Linked DNA regions of Homo sapiens. The protein of the gene in region 1 interacts with the protein of each later gene in a pairwise test. Each region holds a gene or a part of one and is shown on either strand. Other genes may lie near its edges. The genes, in order: CBR4 and ZXDC.

Region 1 (11,646 bases):
AATTCAGGTAATTGCCTTCTTTGCCCTCTTATCCCCAGAGCTTTACATCTGATACTGGGGATGTTCCTGAGCTCGCAGTAGATTCATATTGTTGGACAGGTAGATGCTAGATGATATTTCCCTGTTAGATTGTCATCCCTTTAGCTTAACACTTGGCTCTCGGCTCAATTTACATGTCCCTAGGTGACATAACACTTTATGCTGTTACATTATTTACCACCTAGAGGGAATGAATTTCCAAGTCCTCCCTGAAAGTAAGCTTTGGCAAGAAGATAGGAGAGGACCTCGAGGGGTCTGGATGCTGCAGGCCATGGGCAAGTGACGAGGATGAGATTCACAATCTTCCTGTTTCTGCTCTGGAATAGGTCTCATAGTAACAACCTCTCCCCAACTCAACTCACACAATCAGCAGTGGCTGTGTGATATTACTTAGCAGCACTTTGCAGCTTGCCTGTAGTAGAGAAGAAAGTAAACAGTCACATTGTATCTGCTGGGACTGCCATAAAAAAATACCACAGACTGGGTGGTTTCGACACCAGAAATTAATTTTCTCACAGTTCTGGAGCCTGAAAGTCTGAGATCAAGGTGCAATCGTGTTGGTTTCTGGTGAGGCTTCTCTTCCGGGCTTGCAGATAGCTGCCTTCTCACTGTGTCCTCACATGGCCTTGTACAGGGAGGCAACAGAGAGAGAGAGAGACAGAGAGAGAGAGAGAGAGAGAGAGAGAGAGAGAGAGAGAGAGAGAGAGATTCCCAGCACAAGCTCTCTGGTGTCCTATTGGATTAGAGCCCTACCCTTAGAACCTCATTTAATCTTAATTATCTCCCTAAGGGCACTATCTCCAAATACAGCCACATTGGAGGTTAGGACTTGAACATATGAATATGGCAGGAGAGGGGGGAGCGGGGAGGGACACGATTCAGTCAATAACATACATTAATCCCAAGTGGAGGCTTATTTTAATTAAGTTTTGTGTATGGCCCAAGTTTTCTACTCTGCATAACTGTTTAATCAAAATCCAAACTGAGAGATGGGTCTCTGTAGCCTGTAGATGAGAAACAAAAAGCAGTGATCCTTAAAATGAGATCCCTACAGGCACACGGGTGCCTTCTGGAAATGCAGAAGCCATTACCTGCAAGTCAGTTTCAAATGTTAAACCATACAGTATCGATTCTGGCTTTCCCAGGTGACTTGCAAGAGTGAGAACGTCTTTCAGAGCCCAAGTGCAGTGAAGGCTGCCAGGCCCGTGCCTCTGATACAGATCTAGGAGTCTGAGTAGCCGCAGGGCCTGGATGGGAAAGGCTCACTTAAGTCTGGGAAATGCAGCAGGTGAGTTGAGAGCCACGTGAGACTATGCAGCCAGAAGGATAGAGGGGGGAAGGCCCTGAAACAAAGAGATGGAAATGGAATAGTGAGAGGCTGGGGTCAGAGGATTGAGGCCAGTCTTAAAACTAATTTCAGGAACACTGAGTTCTCCTCTTCTATGTGGCTTGGCAGGCGTGCTGCATTTGGGGCCTGATTTTAAGTATCCAGAGCTGGCTTTATACCATTATAAAATTTTTGGCTGGGAAAAAAAAAAGAGTTTCATAAAATTTCAGGCATTATGCTCTCCCATGGTACTTCCTGGTGAAATGTCCAACCTGTGATCTCATCTAGGCGTAATACTAACTCTACTTTGACTAACAATCTCTTTCATTATTAAGGGTGAATTTTTAATTCAGAATTTTATTCTTCATGTATAAATTATGTTATCACCTAGTTGGCTTTGTAACATAATGAATGGATAGTAGCTGTAGTTATCATTCTTTGCAATCTTTCTTTGTTATTATTCATTTACTTTATAGAACATTATGTCCTGAAAGAAGAAGCCTTCTCTGACCCCAGGCCTCCATATTGGATCAATGCCCCTAGTTATGATCCCTCCTAGCAGCCTGTACTTCTCCTTTATAGTTCTTCCCACCATTGGAATTAAATAGTGATGGCATGATTAATTGTTTAATGTCTGTCTTCCTTGCCAGATTATTTTCCCAACGAAAACAGGCACCAGGTCTATCTTAATCATAGCTGTATCGACACTGGTTCTTGCTTATAGCAATAAATTCCTTTTAAGTGAGTTATTTCATTCACTCATTGATTCATTTGTTAACTCATTTATTTAGCATTCACAAGCCCTAGGAACTGTGCTACAAACAGGGAAACAAAAACCAATGTGATCATTTCTGGATTCAAAGAGTTGGCAATTAAAAACAGAAAGTTTTTAACCATTTTATTTTATTTTTTATGTTTTTTTAAAAAAGATGAGGTCTCACCATGTTGCCCAGGCTGGTCTCAAATGCCTGGGCTCAAGTGATCCTGCCGCCTCCATCTCCCAAAATGCTGGGATTACAGGCGTGAGCCACTACACCTGGCACTTAACCATTTTAGGTGAAAGTTCCCCTTGAGAACCCAGTGAAGGAAGTGGACCCTCTTTCAAGAAGCTACTCATCTAAAAAGCACATGAGATTTTGTATTCAGCTTGGTAGGTTCACAGATCCTTGAGAATCTATTCACTATCTTCCTAAAATTATGTGGATTCTGACGTCACAGTAACTCCATGAAATACAGACTTGAAGACACATACAAGGTAAGAGGACGGGTAAAGAAGGACATCAGCATGTCCTCCTTTGGGTCAGGAGAAGCTTCCATTGCAAGAGATGTTTGAGCCACATTTTGAATGATAAATCAGATGTTACCAGGGAAAGCAGTGGGAGCATTCGAGGTTGAGAAGACAGTGTTTGGAGAAGCATGGATGTGTAGAAGTTGGAATGGTATTTAGGGAGTAGAATCAGCAGGACTTTGTGACTGATTGGATGTGGGATGTTGAGAGAGGGAAGGAATAAACTCCATGCTTCTGCCTTAGGCAACTGAGTGCCAGGTTTAGGTCTCGGTGGGCAGCCTCAGAGGCATAAACGCCAATTCAACAAAATAACAAGCTCATGGGCCACATTTTTTGTTCCCAATCAAAATGAAATAAACTTTTGTAAGTGATAAAAAGTACATTCCTTACAATTTAGATTACCCAGCAGATTGGATACAAGAATGCCAATGAGGAAATCAACATGCTTTTTAATCATAAAAGTTATATCTGTGCAGCCACACTAAGGCAGCTTTCTAATCTTTCTTCTTGAAAGAAGAGCATGGTCTGTATGGAGAAGTTAGCTGGCCACATGCAATTTGGGTCGTGCAGATTATCATCACTGCCTGAAGAATCCTGGGAGACTGCTTGCTGGCAGGAAGGGTTATGCTTCAATTATGGATCTGATAAGCTGGATGTGCTTAGTATGGTGCATTTGTAAAGAGGATTCTCAATGAATATTCAATCATAATTCATAAATTTCTTATAAATAAATTTTCCTGCATATTTGGAATCTTGGGCATTATAAATCTTGACGTATGAAAAAAATATTCATGAAAGGTACAACCCCCTTATAATTAGTTGCAGATTCAAATTTCGTATAACAGGGCAGTAGGCTTTAAATTACATCTTTTTCAATAACAGTTCCATTGGGATATAATTTGCATACGATACAATTCACACGCTTAAAGTGTACAATGCTTTCAATGAGTTTTTATTTACTTTAAAAAGTTTATGTTTTCTAACTGTTAGCAATTAAATGGTATTCCTTTTGTAATCAGAAAAGTAATACTAGGTATGCATATTTAAAAATTTGTATAACAGTCCTTATACATAAGGAATTTTCTCCTTCGATTGTGGGAGCCAAGAGAAAATATATCCTATGTGGATTTAAGTTAAAGTATAACATATGGTTAAAATATTACCACAAAAGTGGCATGTTTAGTGAGAAGGAAAGACTAAAGGTGGGTCATTCTAATGGCTTCCTTCAATGTCCTGCTGGGTAGGGGAGACCCAGTTTAATTTACAGATCCTCACTTCACTATCAGGGGCTTACAGAGAAACTTCCCCTGCTGTAACCTTCTCAGCTAATGGGTGATGTGCTGTGATAGATGTATTCTCACCCGGGATAGTGGTGATATTGTATTAAGAGGGAAAAAAAATAAATAATAACCTTGAGGTTTAACCTGAGGTATGTGTTGAATAAAAAGCCCAGCTTATCCATTTACAGTATATATACAGTGAGAAAAGTTGGAAGGTTTTCAGAATTCTGAATGTCACCTCATATCATGTGTTAGTGATCTTCATGATAGATGGCATAGATCTAAAAACCATTTTTTTTTGCTAAAATAACAATGTGTAGAAAAAAAAATAATCATTTTCCTAGCAAATGGAGAGAACTGTTCAAAAGATAAACCTCTCTGGTTTGACCTAAGGTGCAGGAATACAGTTGGCATTTAGGCTGACCCTTATATTGGTAATTTATGTAAAACAGTTTTTTCTTTCCAAGATTGCATAGTGTATAGTAGGAAAGTGAATAGACAAATTTGATCTGACCCATTTTTACATCACTGGGAAACTGTTTGTTTGTTTTTTAGAACACTGTTATTTTGAGACAGGGTCCTGCTGTGTCATGCAGGCTGGACTGCAGTGGTGCAATCATGGCTCACTGCAGCCTTGACCTCCTGGACTTACATGATCCTCCCAACTCAGCCTCCCGAGTAGCTGGGACCACAGGTAGGCCACCATGTCCAGCTAATTTTTTTTTGTATTTTCTGTAGAGATGGGGGTCGGGGGGGTGGGGGTCTTGCTGTGTTTCCTGGGTTGGTTTTGAACTTCTAGACTCAAGCAATCCTCCTGTCTCAGCCTCCCAAAGTGCTGGGATTACAGGCATGAGCCACCACGCCTGGCCTGCTAATAGTTCTTAAATGCAGCTCTTATCTTATTACTTCTGCAGTTAAAGGCCTGTTTAATGCTTGGCACCTGACTTTAAAGCTGACTATAATATAGCACCATCCCAAATTTCCTCAGGCTTGTTTCCTCATTGTTTCAAACATATATTGTTTCAAAGACACAATTTTTATGTGTGACTGTTTGCTTATATTGTTTAACTTCCTATTGTATTTGCTTTTAATAAAGTCTAATAGATGCTATGAAAACAGCCTTACAATCTCTTTTTCTTTTCATGAAGCTCACTGTCTACTACAATGCTTAGTGTGCCATTTAGGAGGACCTATGAGGAGGGAGTTTTGCTCAGGCTTCTCTGCTGCATAACCAGGAGGCTGATTTCTTACAGAAATTACCACTTGTAATTATATTTCCTTTGTTGCTTTCGCTGGCAGGAAACTCTAAGTTTATGAATCTCTTCTTTAATACTAAATAGATTCTTATAGCATGACTTTATTCGTATTTTTTCCACTGACCTAATTTATTGTTCTGGCCTTGTGGGAGAAGGGGCAGTGGTCCTCTTTGCCTTTTAAATTCAAATACTCATGTATTTTTGCAAACCATTTCAAATCTTTTTTTGGATCTAAATGGAATAGGAATAACAAATTTAAATTAATGCTCAACTTGCTTATTTATAGACTTTTTGCTCTTGTTTTCCTTTTTTCAAACCTCATCCAGCCCTCAAATCCAGCTTTTCCATGCACCCCTTCATTCTTCACTGATCTCCATTTTCTCGGAGCTCTTGTGTTAATATAATTTTGCATTTTACTAAGTATGATTTTGGATACCTCCTAGTGTTTCATGTGTATTAGTCCTGTAGTTCTGGGTTGTAGTTTTTTTAGTGGTAGGGACCATGGCTCATACTTTTCTGAATCTAGTAAAATAATATTGTATCAGAAATGCTTTCTGTTTACACTATAATTGTAACAAACATTGAATTTTTTAGCTTATTAACTCTCAGAGCACCCAGTACATCTTATTTAGAATTGCAGGAACCCATTTTTGTTTCTCTACAGCAGCCGAAGCTTGTTTCATAGATCTTGCAAGACTATTCAATCATTCAGTTAAAATTCCTTGACCTCCTGCTGGATGATGTTCGACAGGGCATTCATCTTCACGACACCCTTCGCGATGAATGGTAACATCTGGGCGGGTAGAGGTCCATTTCTACAGCAACCTGGGGGAGGAACAGGTAGGGTAGGTTTTGGTGTGGGTGCGATTCTTGGGGACTTCTTCAACAGGTAGGACATCAAGTCTGTAGCCAAAACAACACCTGGGCGAAGGGCAAATACCGGAGCCCCGACCGGCTCACGCCCAGTAATGCTTTCTCTGGGTTCTAACTACGTGATCAGGTCGTCTTGGTTTGCCAGGGAAAGCCCAGCGTCTTGACAACCCTGTCAGTTCCGAACAAACCGGGTCGATTGGTCACCGGGGCTCGAATCCCGACTGATATGACCCAGCGGGGACAGAGGATCCCCCTCAGTGCCACAAGTACATTCCCCACCGAGCAGCGCGCCTGCGCCAGTTGCTCTCATGCGTCAAGACTACAGGTCCCAGCAAGCATCGAGGCCCTCTCCAGGCCATTCTTCCGCCGGCGGGGAGCTCTCGTCGGCGTATTTGTTAGGTGTGGCGCGGAAGAGTCCGTGCGTGATGACGTCGACGCGGCGACGTCGAGCTCTTCCTCCTTTTCACGGCGTCTTGCATTACTATTGTGCGGCTGCAGGAGGTGTCGAGCGGCGTTATTTTTTTTTGCGGTTTGCCTTTTTTTTTCTTTTTTTTTTTTTTGGAACCGCGGTTGTTTAAAAGCCTGAGGGAACCTGGAGAGGGGCTCCCACTCCCTACCCTCTTTCCTCCGAGTTTGTGACTCCGAGATGGACAAAGTGTGTGCTGTTTTTGGAGGCTCCCGAGGCATTGGCAGAGCTGTGGCCCAGTTAATGGCCCGGAAAGGCTACCGACTGGCGGTCATTGCCAGAAACCTGGAAGGGGCCAAAGCCGCCGCCGGTGACCTCGGCGGTAGGTACCAAACTGGAGTTGTCCAGTTGTATGGCCGCGGTCCAGGCGCCTAAAGAAAATCTCCTTTGTAAAAAGAGCGGGTCTGGCCTTTAGGGCTCTAGGGTTACTCGATGTAGCCGCGTGCAGGCGCTCTCCCGTTCCAAGGGTAGAATGCGTCTCGTGCAGAAACCCGCGATCTCCCTATGCCTCGCAGAATGCCGGCCACGCAGCTTGCCGCCGAGGGCTGAACACTTGGGGTGTTCTTTGAGACCTCGTAGTCTTTTGAGGCCCCGCTATACGCACCCTCCGCCCTGCGGCTAGTGCTAACGCTGAGGAGCTTCCCTGTTGTGGGAGAGAGCCACGTAACAGTTTACTTTTAATGTAGGGAAAAGGGCGAGTTCTCGGCCCCCGGAGACAGGGCTGGGTCGAAAGGAGTTCAGGCAGGAAAGGTGGGAGTGCAGGTACCAACGGCTCCCTTCAGTTTTGCCCAAGGGCCGTGCCTTGGCCCTGCGCGAATGCACAAAGCAGTGTTTGATAGAGAAACCCTTTTGAGTACCAGCCAGTTTTGAGATATACCTGGTTTGCTTTAATGTTATTAAATTGTTTTGGTGAGTTTTGCAAATGGACAATTGAACTTTGTTCTGCCAAATTCTTTTTTATTGCATTTAAACTTCAGGGTTTTTTATTTCCGGCTTATTATGAATGGATTAGTCATTTTGTGAATATAACTCTTCATTGAGTTTAGGGAGAAATAGGACGTTAGATCCGAAGATGCTATTTGTTTAATCACCAGAATGGACAAAATTATACTTCATTTACTATCAGGGAGGCATGGGGAGAATAGAGGCCTAGGGGTGCGTCTTGTGGCTCTTACTGTTTTTGTGTATCTGGTTTTTTTTTTTTTTTTTTGAGAGGGCTTCCCATTATGTTGCCCGTGCTGGACCCCAACTCCTGATTTACTGGCTCTAGAGATCTTCTCGCCTCAGTCTCCCAAGGACCTGGGACTATAGACGCCAGGTGTGGCTGTTCATTTTTAAGTTAACATTATTGATCGGTTTGGTATCACCTGTTCAGTGCTGGTTGGGAGACTATTGGGCTCTCTAAAAGAAAAAAGATTCTGTAAGTTATAGGTCAGGGAGAGTGTCAGTGAATGCTTCTTGAAGCTCATATTCCTTACCATTCTAACAAAGGAGGGGAAGAGTGGTGACCCTTACTGTGTCACCCCAAGCCATCAGTGTTTGCTGGACTGGATTGAAGCCATTAGTTGGGCTTTCAAAGGTGGTTGTGGACACAAGTCTTCGGGTGAAAACCAAGAGTAAGAGAGACACAGGATGCTTTTGGGCCCTGCATTCCTTTGAATCGTGTTCCATGAGTGATTGGTTTTCATCTAGAAAGTATAATTCCCCGGGTCGCTTACTGTTTCCAAAGGCTTGATGGGGTAGTGTTGGTGTAAGCATATTTATCAAGGTCAGACAGAAAATAAAGAATTGTTTTAGCTTTTAAAAACAATCCTACATTTTAGAGTATTAAAATGGTAGATTACATAGGGAATGCTTTGTTTTCCTTTGAAGTGTAGTTTTTTTTTGGCATTTAACCATTTTTTAAAAGTGGTAAGTAACAGTTGCTTTTAGTAAAAAGTGTTTTTTTCCCCCCGTGGTTTGTAGTTTTAGCATTTTTATAGCTTCCTGTGTTGTCTCATCTCTCCTGATGGTCAGGTTTGAATAATAGTCGTTATAATATATGTGCCATAGTGCATCCGTAGCACTTAAAAAGAAGAAACCCAAGAGTTCCCGTTCAGGGCCAAAGAAACTAATTCAACAAAAACCTGACAGAATTAGACATAAATTTCAAAAAAGGAATATAAAACCCAGAAGACTGTCGAATTGGGTAGCATGAATTCAGTGTTAAAGCTATAAATATTAGATGAATCTTACAGAGCCTTTATAACTTGAAAAAGCCCTCCCCCCTTTGTTGATTAAAAAGAAAATTTTAAAATTAACTTTCTGTAGTAGTACTTTATTTCCTCTTTGTTCCCGCATCCCAGTTTCATTAGACCAACTCTATGAAAGCCAGGCCTCATGACATTACTTTTTTAATCTTTAGGTTCTAGATTAGCACAGGCCTGCCATCTTAGATAGATGCTTAACAAATGTGTATTGAGTAAATTTAAAATTTGAGTTATAAGTAATTCTTATTTAACTTTGTTGTGTAGGAGATCATTTGGCATTTAGCTGTGATGTTGCTAAAGAACATGATGTTCAAAATACATTTGAAGAGCTGGAGAAACATTTAGGTCGAGTAAATTTCTTGGTAAATGCAGCTGGTATTAACAGGTTGGTCACAGATTTAAATAAGTTTCTTATATATATATTTAAAACTTTTATTCCTAATATGTCTTTGATTGGTATAAGTTAATATGTTTATTTTGCTTCTAACTGGGAGAAAAAACTATTTTAAAACTTGTCAATCCATAAATTATTTTCCTTTATATTGAGATACAACATATAATAAATGTCCAGTTGAGTCGATTTTAACATTGTAATCATCACCCATATTGAGCCGTAGAATGTTTCCAGTGCTCCAGAAGGTAGTGTCTTCTCAATACTTCCTTGTTGGTAACTGTTTTCTGAGTTTTGTCACCACAGATAAGTTTTGCCAGTTTGTGAACTTAATACTAATAGAATCATGGAGTGGATATTATTTTTTAAAAGATGAATTTAGGAGAGAATATTTAGATAACATATTAATTTTCTTGCTAAACAAGGCTTAGTATGGCAGTTGCTCAGGCCATTCAAACTATTTTGGCTATATGTTACTACTTTTTAGGGGTTAAGAATATTTGCCACTCAAGCTGAGAAGGGGTAGCAACCTGTCTTCCAAGTGGATCCTTTCTGGTTTATCAATTGTTATTTTAATGTTTCTCAAGCCAAGTTCAAAATGGGACTCTAGGTATTCTAGCTATTCTAGCTCAGATAGGAAGCACTTCTTGCACTCTCAGTAAAAATGTTACATTAGTCTTGACCTTTTTGGTTTTTATCTTGTTATTATATGCTATTATATGCTGTTTCTTTTTGTAGGGATGGTCTTTTAGTAAGAACAAAAACTGAAGATATGGTATCTCAGCTTCATACTAACCTCTTGGGTTCCATGCTGACCTGTAAAGCTGCCATGAGGACTATGATTCAACAACAGGGAGGGTCTATTGTTAATGTAGGTGAGTCTTCACCTTTGTGAATTTATGATTATCCCATAATACCATACCATAAAAATATTTAATCCACGAATTTGTGATTTATTGTGAAACATGAATGAAATTTATATTATCTGTGGAAAAAAGGATTTAATTAATTGATTAATGAGTAAAATAAGAATCACACATTCACATCCCTATAGGAGTCAGGCAGGTGTTAAATGAGTGACACCACTGAGTACTAGAAAAATGACAGTACCAGCCATGTGATAAATGATATCCAGCTTCATTGTCCAGAGCCCATATGGAATGGTGGAGGCCACCACTTAGATTCAGTAGATTGTTGCCGTGCAAGAATGTGGTCCCAGTTTTGCCAGCAATTTTGATTTTTCAAGAGAAATTGGATCATTCTGATTTTTATGTGAATTTTTTTTTTTTTAAATAGAGACGAGGTCACACTATGTGGCCTAGGCTGGTCTTTAACTCATGGGCTCAAGTGATCCTCCCGAAGTGCTGGGATTATAGAGGTGAGCCACGTGCCCAGCCAGGAACCTGATTTTTAAAACATGGACAAGGAATTAAAGTAGACAGTGGTGGCTAAATAATATTGTCTACAGCAGTTTCATGGGTTACTGTTAAATCTTGTGTAGAGGTTTAAAGGAAGATAAAATTTCTCTGTTTTTAAGAATGGATGTAAGTAACCCCTAGTTTTCAGTTCATCTAACCCACAGGGCAGATAAGCTGTGGAGTATATGCCTGTAGAACTTAAAATGCAAAATGACTTGAAATTTTATTTCAGTTTGGTAATTTGGAAATAATAGTATACCATCTGCTTTTTATTTTCAAATGGTAATACCTTAAAAGGCCACAGAAGGGAGATGCTGCTCCATAAAAGTAAGTGACCCTGTTCTTTTAAATGTAGGAAATGGTTTTTCAAGCCAGAATTTAGAGTTTTTCTGTTTTGAAAGTGAGAAAAGGAAAGAATACTATGCTAATAAACTAAGGGGACATGAGAGCATTTTGGACATTTACTCTTAAAAATTTAAGGGATCCGTTTTCTTATGTAAGAGATTAGTCAATGAGTCAACCTTTGCCTTTTAACACAGCCAGATAAGGACTTTGGATACTTACAAGCAGGCAAACAGGCCTGTATCTGTCACCTGATAACCTGAGGTATATTTGTTTAACTCTAAAATCTTCTTTTTTTTAGGTGTATTTAAAAAACCCATTAGTCCTCCTTATGCATGCAAAACTTTTAGAATTGAGCTAAAAGTAAATAATAGATAGTAAATTGAGAATCTTACTACAGGAAGGACTACTTTAAACTGCCAGACACTTCATTGGTATTTCAGAAATTACCACTTTTTGACCTGATGAACAGTAGTGCGTGGCACGAATCAAAGCTGCTAAAGCAGCTTGTGTTTTTTTTTCTTTTAAAAGCCACTCATATTTAGCAGTTGGGGGTTGTATACTAACTTTAGTGACACTACTGTTAATAGGTTCTGATAACCCGCTACCATCGGACCAGCCCTGTTTTGGTATTTTTTTCGTGCATGTATTTTTCTTTTTTTGTGTCTCTGTATTTTTCTTTCTGATAAACACCCCTCTATCCATATGCATTTCTTC
Region 2 (11,943 bases), on another chromosome or scaffold:
CGGATTCCTCTCATGACCACAGCACAGCAGCCAGGAAGGGGGAATCAGCTCAAATGGAGGTCAGGTCAGGTGATGATGGGGAGACAGGTGGGACCCAGAGAATGAGGGGAGGCTTGGAGCAAAGGCGGGAGTTCAGACAGCTTGGGTGACTGAAAGCCCCTGGGCTGGGCCCGGAGCGTGAGCATGAGGACAGAGAGGGTGCTGGCAGGAGACTCACCCCATCTCACCGGGAGCTGCAGGGCTTCTGGCGGAGCTGGGGATGGAGGTCTTCATCCCAGAGCAAGAGGTTTTGTTCTAGGAGATGCCCCGGCTGTGGCATGGAAAAGTGGGTTGGGGGCAGGTGTGGTGACTGTGTGGAAGGCGGAGGCGGGGGTGGCAAGAATGGCAGAGGGGAATGGGGGAGGAGGCGTGGCATCATCCAGGGGAGACCAGGTGGAGGGAAGAAAGAGGACTGCAGGGACATTGTGAAGGTAGAGCTCAGGCTGAGGTGGATTCTAGAAGGGAGGGAGGTGCTGCGGAGGACTCAGGAGGCAAGGCCATTCTTGGAGCTGGGGGAGCAGGACTGAGTGTGATGACCGCCAGTTTCAGATCCCAGAGGAGGGCCAGAGACAGGGAGCCTAAGCTGGGGGTGGAAATGGGGCAGACACAAAAGGGCAGCTGTCCCCACGGACAGCCTCAGAGGTCCCGAAGCAGAGAGGCCCCAAGTGTGGGAGCCAAGACTCACGTGGGGAGCCCGGTTATGTTGACATGGACTGCTATCCCCCTCCTTGCCCTAGGTGGCCCGGCGCTGCTGGTCAGGGAACCAGAAGGCCTATGAGATCATCTGCCAGACCATGCAGGAGAACAGCACCTTGGTGGTGACACTGCCTCACAAGGTGGAGGACGAGCGGGTGCTCCAGCAGGCCCTGCAGCTCTGAGGGAGCCAGGAGTCGCGGCCCCTGCCTCCCTTCCTCCCTGGCGATCCTCACCTGCCCAGCCATGGCACACACCCTTCCTGCACACCCGCACTACCTGCACTTCTCGCACATCCTCACGTGGCCCTTATGGTGCCCTGTGCAGGGTGCCACCACAGCCTCATTTTACAGACAGCCCCCTGAGGCCCAGAGACATGCAGCTCTCTGTCCACAACCATGCCACTTGCATGGGAGCCCTGAAGGCTGTCAAAGTCCATTTAGGGCCAAGTCCCAAGCCTGCCCGGGGGCCCTGCGGTGAACACTGGTCAAGCTCTCTCCGGCTGGGATGATCACACCCTCTGCTTCCTGGCCACCTGCCAGCCTCCATGCAACTCTGTCTGTCTGCTGCCCATCTGCTGTCTGTGCAAGCAACTTCTGGACCCTGGCACCCTGGGCTGCTGGCCTGGAGGAGTTCGGGAAGGAGGATAGACCAGGAAATAAAGGGTCAACAGAGCTGTGTGCTGCACTGTGGGCTGGTGGGACGGGCAGGCCGGGTCTGCCCTAAGGATAAATGATCACTTACTGGGGAAGAAATGAGAGAGCAGGGGCACCCCCCTAGGCCAGCACAGCCTGAGGGGTACAGCAAAGGGGACCCTTTGCTGGCCCCTGAGGCTGGAGTCTGGCACCCCTTCCCCAATCCCATAGCCCGGTAATGACTGGGTCCAGAGCCTCGTGAGAGGTCACCGGGATGGGGGAAGTGGCCTCTGTCAGGGCCAGGGCTCATGAATCTCATTCTCTTAGCTGGGCGTGCAACAGACCAACAGATAACTCATCCTAAACAGAGAAATGAGAAAGAGTCTGTGGGTGGGCCTCTGAGGGCCACAGAAAACCAGACACCCCACATGTCGGTGGATTGGAGAGGGGCAGGCCACTGCCCTCTCCAGGACCAAGCCGGGTTCTTGGTCCCCACCCTCCCTGCACTCCGCATCTCCTCCCCAGCAGCCATTCTCCCCTTTCCCTTGTGAACAAAAGCCTAGTTTTGTGTGGGCAGCAATATAGGGTAAATAAAACCACCTGATTCTCCAGCCTTCCTTGCTGTTAGGAGGGACTGTTGGCCTAGTCCTGGCCCACGAGATGAGGGTGGGGTCTGTGGGGCAGGGCTTCTTGAGAGCCGTCGTTTTTCTAATAAAATGGACAGATCCAGCGGGGTTGCTTTTTGCCTTCGCCCCTTCGTCCTGCCAGAACCAAGATGTGGGGCCTGGAAACACAGCAACCAGGTTGGTCAGCTAGGGCGGCTGCCACATAATGTCTGGCACTGGGGCCCAAACAACAGAAATGAAACACATTTGCAGGCTGGAAGCCCAAGACCAGGTGCCAGCTGGCGTAATTCCTGGTGAGGCCAACTTCTCACTGCATCCTTCCATGGCAGAGACAGAGAGGGGAGAGTGTTACAGAGAGGGGCAGAGACAGAAAGACAGAGACAGAGAGGGGAGAGTGTTACAGAGAGGGGCAGAGACAGAAGGACAGAGACAGAGAGGGGAGAGTGTTACAGAGAGGGGCAGAGACAGACAGAGAGTCACAGAGAGAGACAGAGAGAGAGGAAGAGACAGAGAAAGAAAGAGATACAGAGAGGAAGAGACAGAGAAAGAGAGAGATAGAGAGAGTAAGAGACAGAGAAAGAGAGAAAGACAGAGATAGTGAGAGAGACAGGACAGAGTGTGTAGGGACGAATCGTCTGTCCCCACATCTCCATGAAAGCACCCTGCTGCATGGATCTGTGCACACATCTTAAGAGCGGGCCACAGGGCCCTGGCATCACCCTTTCCCCATCCAGCACCTTCCCTCTTGAAGGACAGGGAGGGCTCTGGTGGCTTCCAGCTGCACACAGACCCCAGACCCCCTCTGGGCTCCATACCAAGCCATGCCAGGGAGCAAGCTACTTCCCTGGCCCCTGCATGCCAACCTGCTGTCTGCTGCTGCAGTGGTAAGTGACAGCTGACTCCCACGGGGCTCACAGCGGAATTGGGGCAGCTGGTCACAGCTGTAGTCGCCATGGAAGGAACAGCGTGGCTTCTGATGTGCCCAGTGCCATCTTCTTTTTCAGAAGGCAAGGATGTATAGTCCAGTTAGAAATGTTTTCATCAAAATGATTAAAAGAGAAACCAGTTGGCCATGATGAGTGTAGGGTTCAGTTGCCTTAAGAGTTGGAGGTGAGAAAGGCTCAGGCCCTGCAGTACAGCATTAGGGTCCTCCCCCTGGGCAGCGCCTGCTCTCTGCAAACCCAGGGTCCCTGGGAACTGTATGCTTTCCTTGCTGGCAAGCCAAGGTCAGGGAGGGAGGGCCTGGCTGAGTGATGCACTCTCCCATTCCAGTTTTCCCAGAGTAGACAACCACACAGGGGCCTGTGGGCCGGGCATGACCTGCAGTTATGTTTTATTTATATATTTTTTAGAAATAGGATCTTGCTCTGTCACTCAGGCTGGAGTGCAGTGGTGCAATCATGGCTCACTGTAGCCTTGAACTCCTGGGCTGAAGTGATCCTCCTGCCTTAGCCTCCCAAGTAGCTGGGACCACAGGAGCACAGCACTACACTCAGCCTGCAGTTGTGTTTTGTTTGGTCTGTCCTGTTTTTAAAAAAATTTGACTTTGTCACCAATGTTTACAAATTGGGAGAAATCCAGAGCTTATTTTTTGAAAATCAAGATATAAGGTAACACCATGTTCTCACCACCTCTGTGGCAGTGATTTGCTGGGGGCCCCTCTGGGCTGGCCTAGCTCTCTGCACTTGGCCACAGTCCCTTCCAGTCCCTACAGAACCCATGGTGAGGCGGAGCGTGTATGCTGTTTGTCCCTTGGCATGAGAGTCTATGTTTCCTGTGCCCACCTGTCTCCCACATTTGTGTGACTTGTATGACCTCTGCTGGGATTTGAACTTGTGACCTTTGACAAAGAGATGCTCTTTTGCTCCCAGTGAACCTCATCCCCACTCCCATCAAAATTTGGGAATCCTGGACACTTCTCTGTTAGCAATCTCAAGATCCACATGATGCCTTTTAGCCCAAAAGAGGTGCTGGACATCCAGCGATACCTGGGCTGATGGGATTTCTCCCCAGACACAAATAAATCTGAGCGTGCATGCGTGTGTCATCTGCGTCCCTTCCCCTGGCTTCTCCAAAATCCTTTCCACACAGCCTGGAGAGTACAGGTCTGGCTGGCCAAGGCACAATCTCTGTGGTCCTTGTAATTTGGGGCACTCCTTTGAGACTACCAAGTTCAAGTCTCTGCCTGAGCCCCACTGGATGACCACATTGAGCTGACTCAAGCCCACCTGGTGAAGTGGCGCGTCTGACCCTCGCCAGGAGTCCTGTTGCTCCTTTCAGGGTATCTCAGCAGAAGGCTGAAACAACCTAGTATCTGAAACAACCTAGTATCAGATTTGAGCTTTGGTTGGGTGGGGGAGTCTTAGGAAGCGGGGATTTGCTCTGGATTGGCTCTTACCAGAAATCGGGTCAACACCATGACTAGGTTTCTGACTAAATCCTATATACAGAGAGGGAAGCACACAGACAGACAGGCTGTCAGGGGTACAAAAGCGGCGGCTGCTCACGTTAGCTGAGAGAGGGGCTGCTGGGTATCTTGTAAATGGCACAGCAAGTGACCTCGCTTTATCTGGGTGGAGACACATCATGAAGTGGCCTTGCTTTGTCTCATGTCATTGTGTTTCAGTGACCTTGGCCTAGGTTGGTTTTCTGCGTGATGGTTCAAGTCTTACAGAACAGAGTGGCCCAGCTGTAGCACCCGGCCAGTTTCTGGATGGCAGGGGCTGCCCTTTTTCTTTCTCAGTCCCCTTCATTTTACACATGAGGAAACTGAGGCACAGAGAAGTTGTGATAGTTTAAAAATGGCTGCAAATTCTTTCCAGCACCTCCCATTGAGAGGTGGAGTACAAGTTCCCCTTGCCTGGGTCTGCAGTGTCTTATGACTTCTTTGATCACGAGAATGTGGCATAATCAATGCTGCGCAACAAGTTGGGCATGGTGGCATATGCCTGTAGTCCAGTTAATTGGGAGGCTGACCCGGAAGGACTGCTTGAGGCCAGTTGGAGGTCGCACTATGATTGCACCTGTGAATAGCCACCACACTCCAGCCTCAGCAACACAGGGATGGACTTGCTGGGTCATGTGGAGATTATGTTTAGCTTTCTGCAGAACTGCCAAACTGTTTTCCACACCGCAACGTTATACATTCCCACCAGCCATATGTGAGAGTTCCAATTTTTCTATATCCTGTTTTTAAAAAAATTACCACTATTTGAGTAGGTGTGAAGTTGTATCTCACTGTGTTTTGATTTGCATTTCCCTAATGATTCGTGATGTTGAGCCTCTTTTTATTTGCTTATTGGCTGTTTGTATTATCTTCTTTGGAGAAATATGTCTATTCAAACCTTTGCCTTTTAAAAAAGTGGACTGTTTGTCTTCTTGCTAAGAGTTCTTTATATATTCCAGATAGTAGATCCTTATCAGATATTCGATTTGCACACCCTTCTCCCATTCTGAGTTGTCTTTTCACTGTCTTATTGGTGTCCTTTTACCTGAGTAAGTTTTTAATTTTGATGAAGTCCAAGTTATCTATTTTTCTTTCTTGTGCTTTCAATATTATATCTAAGAAACTATTCCCTAATCCAGGGTCACATAGATTTACACCTACTTTTCTTCAAATAGTTTTATGTCTTACGTGTAGGCTTTTGCTCTAATTTGAGTTAATTTTTGCCTCTGATGAGAGATACACGTCCAAATTGGTTCTTTTGCATGTGGAGATCCAGTTGTCCCAGTGCCGCCATTATTGAAATGACTATTCTTTCCTCTACTGAATGGTCTAGGAACAATATGTTTTCGGCATAAACTGATATATATAATAGATGTATCCTATTCTTTTTAATATTATAATTTGTGTTACTTAAAAAAATACTCTTAATAATAAAGCATTCATGTATTTAACAAATATGCACCAAGAGTCTTCCTGGGCACACACAGTGAATAGGACACAGTTCCTGGGCTCCAGGAGCCTACATTCCAGAGAGGGAGAGACAGTGAAGGAGCAGGGAAGGAACTCAACAAAACAACGGGTGATGAGAGCTCTAAGAGCAAACAGATCAGACAGAGGTGGGAATACGGGACTGGGTAAGCATGTGCTTTGGATCAGAAGGGGCGCAGAGTCCTCCCAGAGGAATCAGAGATCAGCTGCGCCAAGTCTCTGAGGCTGGAACCAGCTTGGCTTGCTGGATGAACTGGGAAAAAGAGGTGGGGTGCGGGGGAGGGGTGGGGGGGGCAGCGGGAGAGTGGCGGGAAGTGAGGGCAAACAGGTAGGGGAGGGTAGACTAGCAAGGCCATAGGCGCCTTCGGGAGCAAGGTGGAGGTGAGCATAATTTGATGTGCAATTTTTAGATCATAAAACGGTGCCCCGTGGATGGGAGCGAGTGGAGCGGAGGGAGACCGATGACCAGCTAGTAGTTATTTTTCAGGTACCCAGGAATAAAGTGCGGGTTTGGATCTGAGTGGTGGTGAAGTTGAAGTGGAGGAGTCCAGATTGAATGCGGAGGTGTACGGTGAGGTGGGGGAGGGTGAGGACCGGAAACAGTAAGTAATTAAGCTGTTGCAGAGTGAGGTTGTGCCAAGTTTAGTAGGAAATACAGTTGGAAATACAGGCAGGGGTCCTGCGTATCAGGGAGGCCCCGTGTGCCGAGCAAGGACCTGGGCCAAAGCAAACGAGGTCTGTGCGCCAGCGGCGGCAGGCGAGCTTGCACTTAAGTGAGCTGGGGGTAGGCGTCCGGCCTGTTGGACAGGTTCGAATCCTGGATCTGCCGGCTGCCGAGTGACTCGAGCTCGCCGTCCCTGTTTCCTCACCCCTGGGTGACCGCGCACGCTTAATCAGCTCGGACAGGTACAGCCCCTGGGACGCAGTCAATGCCTACGAGAGGTTGCCTGTTAAGTGTCTGAAATATTAATACGATTCGAAGTCAAGACAAGCCTCGTCTTCCACGCCAGCGGGAACGAGAAGGAATCGCTCAGCGTTGGGAGCCTCACCCCGTCCCCTGTCGGTCCCGTGCCCCGCCGCTCGCCCTCGTAGGTGCCGGCGCTCCGCCCCCCGACCCCGCGCCCCGCCCCCCGACCCCGCGCCCCGCCCCCCGACCCCGCGCCCCGCCCCCCGACCCCGCGCCCCGCCCCCCGACCCCGCGCCCCGCCCCCCGACCCCGCGCCCCGCCCTAGTCGGTCCCGGCGCCCCGCCCCCGCCTCCGCCTCCGGCGCCCCGCAGCCCAGCCTCACGTCACGTCAGCCCAGCAGGCCTCGCGCATCGCCCGGCGGCGTCCGCGCACGCGCGGTTCCGAGCCGGACTCTACGCCGGGGCTTGGCGCGGATCGCGTCCCGGGGCGGCGCACGCACACCTGGGCGGGGCGCGGGCAGCTCTGCGTCCGAAGCTGCTCCGACGCCGTCGCTGGGACCAAGATGGACCTCCCGGCGCTGCTCCCCGCCCCGACTGCGCGCGGAGGGCAACATGGCGGCGGCCCCGGCCCGCTCCGCCGAGCCCCAGCGCCGCTCGGCGCGAGCCCCGCGCGCCGCCGCCTGCTACTGGTGCGGGGCCCTGAAGATGGCGGGCCCGGGGCGCGGCCCGGGGAGGCCTCCGGGCCAAGCCCGCCGCCCGCCGAGGACGACAGCGACGGCGACTCTTTCTTGGTGCTGCTGGAAGTGCCGCACGGCGGCGCTGCCGCCGAGGCTGCCGGATCACAGGAGGCCGAGCCTGGCTCCCGTGTCAACCTGGCGAGCCGCCCCGAGCAGGGCCCCAGCGGCCCGGCCGCCCCCCCCGGCCCTGGCGTAGCCCCGGCGGGCGCCGTCACCATCAGCAGCCAGGACCTGCTGGTGCGTCTCGACCGCGGCGTCCTCGCGCTGTCTGCGCCGCCCGGCCCCGCAACCGCGGGCGCCGCCGCTCCCCGCCGCGCGCCCCAGGCCTCCGGCCCCAGCACGCCCGGCTACCGCTGCCCCGAGCCGCAGTGCGCGCTGGCCTTCGCCAAGAAGCACCAGCTCAAGGTGCACCTGCTCACGCACGGCGGCGGTCAGGGCCGGCGGCCCTTCAAGTGCCCACTGGAGGGCTGTGGTTGGGCCTTCACAACGTCCTACAAGCTCAAGCGGCACCTGCAGTCGCACGACAAGCTGCGGCCCTTCGGCTGTCCAGTGGGCGGCTGTGGCAAGAAGTTCACTACGGTCTATAACCTCAAGGCGCACATGAAGGGCCACGAGCAGGAGAGCCTGTTCAAGTGCGAGGTGTGCGCCGAGCGCTTCCCCACGCACGCCAAGCTCAGCTCCCACCAGCGCAGCCACTTCGAGCCCGAGCGCCCTTACAAGTGTGACTTTCCCGGTAACCGCGCTCTCGGGGGCGGGCGGGCTGCGCGGTGTTGCAGGCAGGTCTGGGGTGCCACGTCCGCCCCACAGAGGGGCCTGCCAGACCTTAGCAAGCCGGGGACGCAGGCTCTTCGGGATTTGTATTCTAGCTCCTTCCATGTCATTCGATTTGAGATCTTGGCCCTGCCCTGCCGCAGGGATTCCGATGGCAGGTAGCGCAGATCACCACAGCTGCGCTTCCCAAAGGTGGCGGCAACAGATATCCTTAACCTGCTTGTGCTTGATGAAAGCGGCACGCATCTTCACAGAGTGGCACGGAGCTATGTGTCAGGTCTTTATTTTCCTCAGTCTCGTCATTTGTTTACGGGGTGCACACTCCGTGCTAGAGGAGCAGAGATGAATGTGGCCAGATTCAGGACCTTAACACGCTGGGAGGATAGCCACAGGTGTGCGCACATCCTGGCTTTTTTTGCCTTTTGCACTTTGATTTCCGTTGAACCTCACAGTTTTGTGAAGTTTTAAAAATTAGCCGTCTGTGAAGGTTAAAAACTGTCCTCTTTTACAGATGAAGAGACAGAGGCCGAGCCTTGTGGATAAAGTCCACTGCTGGTGGCTGGGCGCGGTGGCTCACGCCTGTAATCCCAGCACTTTGGGAGGCCGAGGCGGGCGGATTACGAGGTCAGGAGATCGAGACCATCCTGGCTAACACGGTGAAACCCCGTCTCTATTAAAACTACAAAAAATTAGCCGGGCGTGGTAGCGGGCGCCTGTAGTCCCAGCTACTCGGGAGGCTGAGGCAGGAGAATGGTGTGAACCCCAGAGACGGAGCTTGCAGTGAGCCGAGATCGCGCCACTGCATTCCAGCCGGGGCGACAGAGCGAGACACCGTCTCAAAAAAAAAAAAAAAAAAAAGTCCACTGCCTGTTCTTTCTCCTGTGTGTTGACCTGCAGTTGTTGGGAATGTAGGACTCCAACACAGTGAGCTCTTCACCAGGATGGGCAGCTTTCCCTGCTTTCACAGGGATAGGGTTCCTCCAGAAGGGCAAGAAAGGATTCCTCCCTGGAAAGGCAGAAGAATGGAGTCGGCTGGGTGGCAGAGCCCAGGTGGGGATTGTGGTCTGTGGTGAGGGCCCAGGAGGAAGGACCAGTCATTCAAACAGAAACTGGAATGTGTGCCTAGCATGCCCCTAACCTGTATATGCACACGGCTCTCCTTATAATGTCCTTAAACAAGAATTTTTAAAGGATGAGATGAGAATTATGAACGGGTTTTATTATTTTTTCCCTCGCATATGCCTGTGGACTGTCTTGCGCATTCCTCTTCAGAGAGAATGTGGCTTGAGGCCACTAGCTCAAAGTCTTTTTCAGTCATACACTCTTGGGAATCTGATGGTGGCTGTAGACCCTTTCCCTGCTAAAAGAGTATCATTCTGTGTATGACACTGGGAAGGTCAGGGATCCCGCCTGCTTCCAGGCATGAGGTCTCTTGAGGGTTTTGTGTTGGCTGATCCATGAGGCTTCTTGTGTTGAGATGAGATTAGATGGTTAGATGAGATTAGATGTTTAGAAGCAGGAGCAGGACCAGGGAAGCATCATCAAAGGGCCCAGACCTGAGTTTTCTGAAGGCCTGAGCCAGGGAGTGGGAATGATGAGGGTCTCTAGCAGGTGAGATTGCAGAGGGAGAACCAAAGGGTGTAATTATCTATGGGGGTGTGGGGGGTTCTTGCCAAGGCAGAGAGAGTCTGTGTTCAGATTTACATGACCAAGTGTGTGAACACACCGAAGCCCAAAATACCCTGGAGGTATTTTGGGACCAGATTGAGGCCAAAGATCAGCATTTCTGAGTTAGATGTTGCTGGGGAAAGTAGGGTTCCTTGGGCTGATACTTTTGGGCAGTGCTATGCCATGTACATCTGTGTGGCAGTTCATAGGCATGATAGTATCTCGTTAAAGGCTCCAAGAGGAGCTGCAGCAAAGACTCCTGTTAAACATCCTGCAGCCTCATGTTTTCCACCCTGTTGGAGCCCTGAATGTTTCTGTCGGAGGAGAAGTATTGCTGTGGAATTGTTGAGGCTTAGCTGCTTTGGCCAGGGGTTAGGATTGAGGTGAAGATTACAAAGCAGGGAACCTAAGGAAATTGCGAAAGGAAAAAGAATCCAAACAGCAAGGGACAGGGCTGGCAGTTGGAGGGTGTCAGGGAGGAAATTTGGATATGTAGAGGATGCAGCATCACCCCCAAGGGGTGAAAAATCCTGGCTAGTAGGATGATTTGTAGCCTTTCAAAGATCAACCCTACCAGACAAAATCTTGTTCCTTAGTATTTGATTTCTCTCATGGGGTTCTTGGGTCTCAGTGTGTGTGCAGGATCAGTGCTCCGGAGCCGGCCAGTAGATGGCTGTGAACGGAGGACTTTCTCTTTATCGGTTGCTCCATCTCCAAGTCATGTTGCAACAGGTGGCCAGCGTGTGCCTATTGGCTGCCATTAGCTGCCTTCCTGTGGTGATCACAAAGCCAAGCATTAATGGTCTTCCCTTTTTAGAGAGTGCTTCTGAGTCATGTTTTCCCTTGTCTGCTTCAGTGTGAACAGGGTCTGGTGGGTGTGACTAGCATTAGCTATGTTGTATAATTTTTGCCACGCTTTGAGCAGGGTTTGTGTTTTCCTTGTTCAGGCTGTGAGAAGACATTTATCACAGTGAGTGCCCTGTTTTCCCATAACCGAGCCCACTTCAGGGAACAAGAGCTCTTTTCCTGCTCCTTTCCTGGGTGCAGCAAGCAGTATGATAAAGCCTGTCGGCTGAAAATTCACCTGCGGAGCCATACAGGTAATGAGCTAGGGAACGCACAGCATTTGGACCCAAGATTTGTCTTCATCGTAGCTGTTGGAGTTGTAAATTTTATGCTGTATAATTTTTTCTTTTATAAGGTGAAAGACCATTTATTTGTGACTCTGACAGCTGTGGCTGGACCTTCACCAGCATGTCCAAACTTCTAAGGCACAGAAGGTAATCCTTACATTTTGGTTTGCATTATCAGGTTTGAAAATGAGTGGTTTGTCAGCAGCAGAAACCAATGAATGAAATATCTGTAGACATTTTTTAAGTTGTTAAAAAAGGAGCTCAGTGTTGATGATTTGGAAAATTCAGAAAACTGTAAAAAGAAAATTGCTCAGAATCTCATCACCTGAAGTCAGTTTTTTCTGTGTATACTTTTTTTAAAAAAAGCTAAATTGGCATACTCTGTTCTTAAAAAAAAAACAATTCCAGGTTTTTTTTTTAACTTAACATTGTAGAATAAGCTTTCTTCATGTAATTACAAGTTTTCATGGTGGTAATGACAACCCTGGAGACTGTGTCCAGGTGACACTCAGCACTTTACATGTGTGTCTTCTACCTTCCCAACAACCTCAAAGCTAATGTTCTTATTCTCCCTGTTTTACAGTGAGACTCGGAGAGATTCAGTGGTTTTTCTGTACTTGCACAGCTGGGCTCTGAGGATTTAATATAAAAATGTCACTTAGGAAAAGACACAGTCTTTACAAGTTGGCTTAAGAGAGTCCTTTTGGCATTGCAGCTGATGCTCTGTGCACATTTCTCACGACCGTCTGTCGCTCGGAAAGCTTGTTGATCATTGGGGTTTCTAAACAATAGAAACACCTT

What was found.
Region 2: the proteins of CBR4 (region 1) and ZXDC interact in binary tests that used the Homo sapiens proteins (3 or more experiments, as listed by UniProt).

What each region holds. Positions count from the first base shown.
Region 1 is NC_000004.12:169,005,153-169,016,798, reverse strand, and holds the start of CBR4 (3-oxoacyl-[acyl-carrier-protein] reductase), read left to right. Parts: upstream 1-6,543; 5' UTR 6,544-6,709; coding exon 6,710-6,851; intron 6,852-9,042; coding exon 9,043-9,163; intron 9,164-9,907; coding exon 9,908-10,044; intron 10,045-10,884; coding exon of another isoform or gene 10,885-10,914; intron 10,915-11,646. UniProt on the Homo sapiens protein: Component of the heterotetramer complex KAR (3-ketoacyl-[acyl carrier protein] reductase or 3-ketoacyl-[ACP] reductase) that forms part of the mitochondrial fatty acid synthase (mtFAS).
Region 2 is NC_000003.12:126,471,319-126,483,261, reverse strand, and holds the start of ZXDC (zinc finger protein ZXDC), read left to right. Parts: upstream 1-7,370; 5' UTR 7,371-7,396; coding exon 7,397-8,303; intron 8,304-10,956; coding exon 10,957-11,109; intron 11,110-11,210; coding exon 11,211-11,289; intron 11,290-11,943. Other genes in the region: UROC1 (urocanate hydratase), read left to right, coding at 777-917. UniProt on the Homo sapiens protein: Cooperates with CIITA to promote transcription of MHC class I and MHC class II genes.